Linked DNA regions of Homo sapiens: region 2 is linked to region 1. Evidence: fine-mapped expression QTL. A gene starts in region 1. The other region holds a variant in brackets. All regions are shown on one strand. Distances are between the middles of the regions. Region 1 holds the start of MRPL14 (mitochondrial ribosomal protein L14). Region 2 has its middle 16 kb from the start of SCIRT.

Region 1 (2,902 bases):
GACTCTGCTATACTTGGAGAGAACTTGAATGATGTCCAAGGGGGTTCTTAGTTACCCACTGCCTGCCTTCTGCCTTGCCATGTCCCCATCCACCCACAGGCCAAGACTGCACTGAGTGAGCCAACAGCAGGCCCCAGCATGTGCCACCTGGGGCATGCCAAGGCCTGGACCCTCTGGTGCCCTGGAGGACAATCACGCTGCCAGCACACCCCCACTTGAAGCCTGGCTGACACTCCCACTCCCCACCTCACCCTGGCCTGGGAGGCAGGATGGGCCCCTCTTCAGCAGGTGTTGGGCACAGCCTCATTGCTCCCCGGCTGCTGCAGACTGGTAATGGGTAGGCAAGCCCCAGCCCCCCAGGGCGGTGGAGTGCTCAGGCTTGCCCCGAGCGGCCAGACCTCTGCCCAGGGGACCCAGGCAGGGGGCAGCACAGCGCCCCAAGGGCAGCCAGCCCCTCTGACCTCTCCTCCCCACTTCCCAAGCGTCCTTTCCTTTTCTGGGGAACAAGGTGCCAAGCTTTGGGACTGTCCGCCTTAGGCGGTCAAGACAGCCAGGAGGGACAAAGCGGCGCCCCCTCCCCACAACAGGGCCTTTGCCCCACTCTCGGTTTCGCGTCTGAATCTTTTCCCCACCGCACCCTCCAACGCAGGCCCGGGCGGCTCATGAATGAACTGCACTGTGTGGGGCGCAAGGAGAGGACACGCTCCCGGGGCCGGCCGCCTCTCCAGCCCGCCGACCAGTCAGTCCCCAGAGCCGGGGGCAGCGGCCGGCCTCGTGCCAGCACCTGCGAACCCTGCCCTTGCCCGAGCCCGAGCCCTTACCCCGGACCGGCTTCGGGTGTACTCGCCCCCGGGAGCAGCAGAAAAAATAAAAGGCACAGAAGGCATCGGACTTGGCGACCCCGGGGTCCAAAACTCGGGGGCGGGGGCGGCTAGTTCCCCAAACGGCGGCGGACAGGCGGGGCGCAGCTGGCACCCCCGAGGGTCGCGCAGGGGACGCGCACCTGCACCGGGCAGGTGGGAGAAGAGTGGCACTCGGGGGCCGGGGGCGGGGGTCCCACCCTTTGGGATCTCCCCGGGGCTGGGGAGAGCCGGCGGCGCGTATCTGGACCTCCGGCAGGGGTTGGAGGACTCACATTTGGCTCGGGATGGTGCGGGGTTGGGGGCAGCGCGCGCCACCCCTGGGTCCCGCGGGCCCGGGCACCTCTGGGTCCCGCAGGAGGTTGAAGGGAGGGGACGCGCAGCTGAGTCCAGGTTTTTTCTTTGGGTGGTGGTGGGATCTTCGAAGAAAAGAGCGAGGGCTGGGTAGGGGTCGCGTACTCACCCCCAGGCGCAGACTCGGCTCCGGCTCGGAGCCCCGGGTTGGGGCGGGGCGGGGCTGGGGGAGGGGGAGGGGGAGTCGCTGGGCGGCTCGAGCTCCGGGCTCCTGCGGCGGCCGCGGCAGTGTATGGGGGAGGGGGAGCGGGGGGAGGGAGGGGGAGGGGGCGGAGCCCCGCAGGTCCCGCCCCGCACGCCGGCGCACGCAAGGTGCGCGCGCACTCTCAGATCGCGTCCGCCGGGCTGGGCCTGGCGCGCAGGCGCTAGGAAGAGGCCGCGTGGGGCGAAGGCGGCGCTTGGCTGGTGGGGCCCGCGGCGGGATTTTCCCGGGCGGCGAGAGCGGTATGGTGGGGGGCAGGGGTGGGCGTTAAGTCCTCATTCCCTCCTTCTCCTCTTCCTTTCTCTGCAGTAGGGGAGGCCCACTCCCCGGGGTGAGTGAGGAGAGGCCAGAGTGGGAGGCAGAGCGTCAGTGGGAGGGGTCCCGACGGGGAGGGGGGGGTCCCGACGGGGAGGGGGGTCCCGACGGGGAGGGGAGGCCCCTTACCCGGATCCTCCTCCCTTCCGCTCTCCGTGGGCTGCTTCTGCGACCCCCAAGTCCGTGGCCGGCGCTCACCTGCTTTCCCCGGGTTGCGGCGTCGACTTGGGGAGGGCGGGCTGCGTTCAGCCGTCGCTGGTCACTCCGGAGCGTCTCCTCCGGCTTCTCCGCTTTCCGCGCTCCCCTCCCCTTTCCCAACTTAGGTCTGGAGATGAGTTAGCCAGACGCCTCTGTGGTGTGAGGATTGAGTTTTTGCTTTCACTCTGTCAACGCTGATGAGTGCGCCCTCCCCCAGGCCAGGGGGTTCCCTGGTTTCTTATTTCACCAGAGACTGCATCTACCAGTGATTAAGACTGGAAAGATGAAGGGAGAGACTGAGACTCTTTCTATATATCACCCACACAAATAGATCATAAAGGCACAACGGGCACCAACCTGGTCATTTAATTTCTGGTTCCTGGAGGGGACAAAAAGGAAGTATTGCTTTCCACAGCCGACGATAAATGAACTTTGCCACCGTAAGAGACGGACGGGACTGAATTTATAAAGAGGTTAAAAGGGCATATGACAGACACCTCAGGCTACTTGGGAAACTCTGGGAGTTTGGGAGATAATTAACTCTCAGGGCTGGTGGTGGTGGGGAACTGCCACTGCTGAACAGAAGGACACTGCCCACCTGGGGGGTTTGGATCTTGTAGTTGGTCAGCGTCTCTGCTGTATGCTGGATTTTCAAGAGTTCATTAGTAGCTTGTGGAATGCAACTGTAAGGTTTGATTTATTGCAGTGTTTTTCAAACTGAATCCTATTGGTGAGTTGGAAATCAGTTTAGTAGATCACGGCCACTTGAAATAGAAAATATCAGAGGGTGTTGCACTTAGGGTATTGTTTCTTGACACTTCAGGTGTACACACACGTGTGAGTGTACTAGGAGGTGTTCTACAGTGTGTTTCTGTAGGTCGCAGTGAGAAAAATTTGAAAAGCGTTGTCTCCTGTGCCCTTCTATTTGCCCTCTTGCCTTTCTTTGCCTGAGTTTTCAGTCACTTAAAATTGT
Region 2 (2,902 bases), 37 kb after region 1:
AACTTGAGTCCCATCTTCCTGTTGGCATAGTGTCTGGCAGACATCTTTTTGATTCGTTCTGTCCATCTGGAAACACTGTGGCTGACTCTGTGTTGGCAGCTCCCAGGCCCTTGGAGGGGAGGTTCAAAACTCACATTTTTTTTTAACTTAAGAGAATTCTGGCAGAGTACACATAAAAGTTGCCATTTTAACCATTTTAAAATGTTTTATTTATTTAGGAGACAGTCTCACTCTGTCACCCAGGCTGCAGTGTAGTGGTGCAATCTCGGCTCACTGCAACCTCTGCCTCCTGTGTTCAAGTGATTCTCCTGTCTCAGCCTCGCAAGTAGCTGGGATTACAGGTGTGTGCCAACACGCCTGCCTAATTTTTTGTGTTTTTAGTAGAGATGGGGTCTCACCATGTTGCCCAGGCTGGTCACAAACTCCTGAGCTCAGGCAATCCGCCCACCTTGGCCTCCCAAAGTTCTGGGATTACAGGCGTGAGCCCTGCACCTGGCCTTAAAAAGTGTATAATTTAGCAGCATTTAGTACATTGAAAATGCTGTGCAGGCTGGGCACGGTGGCTCATGCCTGTAATCCCAACACTTTGGGAGGCTGAGGCGGGTGGATTGCTTGAGCCCAGGAGTTCAAAACCAGCCTGGGCAACATGGGGAGACCCTGTATCTACAAAAAAAAAATACAAAAATGAGTTCTTGTGATGGTGTGCCCATGTAGTTAGCTACTTGGGAGGCTGAGGTGGGAGGACTGCTTGAGCTCAGGAGGTTGAGGCTGTGGTGAGCGGAGATCATGCCACTGTACTCCAACCTGGGTGACAGAGTGAGACCCTATCTCAAAAAAAAAAAGAAAAGAAAAGAAAAAAAAAGAAAATGCTTCTTGACTGTCACCACCCCCCAGTTCCACACCGCTCCTCAGTCCCTGACTCCCAGCCCCTGGCAGCCAGCAATCTGCATTCTGTCTCTAAAAATCTCCCCATTCTGAACATTTCCTATAAATGGGATTGTACACTATATGGCCTTTTGTGTCTGGCTTCTTCTACTCAGCATAATGTTTTCAAGGTTCATCCATGTTGTAGCATGTGTCGGTATTTTGTTTCTTTTTATGAGACTGAATAATATTCCATTGTATGGATATACCCACATTTTGTTTATCCATTCATCAGTGGTGGACATAGGGGTTGTTTCCACTGTTGGGGTTGTGAATAGTGCTGCTGTGAACATTCTTGTGCAAGCTTTTGTCTGAACAAGTGTATTTAATTTGTTTTAGTCTATACTAAGAGTGGAATTTCAGGGTCCTGTCGTGCTTCTGTGTTTAGCTTAAGGTGGAACTGCCAAACTTCCACGGCAGCTGTACCCTTTTACATTCCCACTAGCAATGTGTGAGGGATCTCATTTCTCCACATCTTCACCAA[C/A]ACTTATATTTCATTAAAGATTTTTTATTATAACCACCCTAGTGGGTGTGAAATGATAGCTCATTGTGGTTTTTATTTGCATTTCTTAATGACATCAATCATCTTTGCCCTTCACTCTTTGGGGGGTCACAGGAAGGCCTCTCTATGCTATGCCTCCATGCCTCAGAGTCATCTGTCTAGGGGTGGTGTGAGGGTTAAATGAGAAAATCATGTGAAGAACTCAGCATCTACGCCAGGCACATAGTAGGGGCTCTTAAGACCAACTCAGGCAGTCCCAGGCCTGCCCCTGTCAGCTGGTAGGGAGGCTGGCCACTCAAAGGACCTCCCGGCTCTGACCAACGCGTAAGTTAGAGCTGCTCCCACGGCCTGGCAGTCCCCTCTGCCCACTCTGCCTCCACTGTCCTGGACTTCCTGGGGAACTGTGATCTTTCAGAGGCTGGGATGACATTTATGGAAGGTGGCAGGTCCCCTCCAGCCCTTTTCCATTTTCATGGACCCTCCTGGCCCCTGGGTGCCTTCCCTTCTAGGTGGTCTCTCAGCACTGCCCTCTGCTACTGGAGCATGATGGGAAGTGCCTGGAAATCTATCCCCTCCATGGTGGCCCTTAGCCAATGACTGAGGTGCAGGAGAGTGAGGTCCCAGCTCCCTTGCCTGGGGCGAGGACAACCCTGAGGTGTAATTTACACTCCCAAGTTCCCCTGCGAGATCAGGCAGAAGTCACCCTCTGCAGAATTTTGCCTGAATCTGCACCCTTCTTGGCCTCTTACTTTCTTGTCTTGCTCCCCGAGTCCCTCTCCAGTTTCCCTGGGAGCACTCCCAAATCATTTAGCTATGAATCCTCATCTCAGGATCTGCTTCTGGGGAACCTGATCTAAGACATGGAGCACCTACTGTGTGCCAAGCCCATGGCAAATGCTCAAATAGACAAAGATAAATAAGATGCAGTTCCTTCCCCCAAAAGAGCGCATGACTTGGTTGGGGTGGTCCTGATCACAGTAGTAATGCTAATAGCCCATGTTGTGCACCTTCTATGTGCCAGGCCCTAGGCTGAATGCTTTACATACATTAGTTCATTTAAACTTTCTAGCTTTTTCCGGTTCTAGGTGCTTTAGCAGCTGCGGCTTAAGGTGCAGACATGGCAACGTCAAGAACCACAACACACACAACCAGTCCCCAAAATGGCACAGAAATGGCATCAGGAAACCCCGATCACAAAGATACAAATGTCTTAATGGGGTGGACCTCAAGTTCCTAAGGAGCATGCACCTTGCCAAGAAGCACAACAAGAAGGGCCTAAAAAAGATGCAGGCCAACAATGCCGAGGCCATGAGGGCACGTGCTGAGGCTATCAAGGTCCTCGAAAGCCCAAGGAGGTTAAGCCCAAGATCCCAAAGGGTGTCAGCCGCAAGCTCGATTGACTTGCCTACATTGCCCACCCCAAGCTTGGGAAGCGTGCTCGTGCCTGCATTGCCAAGGGGCTCAGGCTGTGCCGGC

What was found.
Region 2: its variant is fine-mapped to the expression of MRPL14 in aorta (GTEx, PIP above 0.99).

What each region holds. Positions count from the first base shown.
Region 1 is chr6:44,126,100-44,129,001 of GRCh38, reverse strand. It overlaps MRPL14 (mitochondrial ribosomal protein L14), which reads left to right and starts at 1,550. Exons shown (of 3, transcript NM_032111.4): 1 at 1,550-1,658. It overlaps TMEM63B (transmembrane protein 63B), which reads right to left and starts at 1,448. Exons shown (of 24, transcript NM_018426.3): 1 at 1,324-1,448. RefSeq lists silencers at 768-927, 1,108-1,217, 1,258-1,657, 1,678-1,727, 1,758-1,817.
Region 2 is chr6:44,089,349-44,092,250 of GRCh38, reverse strand. It overlaps the pseudogene RPL29P16. Among named protein-coding and RNA genes, the nearest start is that of SCIRT, 16 kb to the right of the region's middle. The variant C/A (reference allele first, on the strand shown) is at 1,409.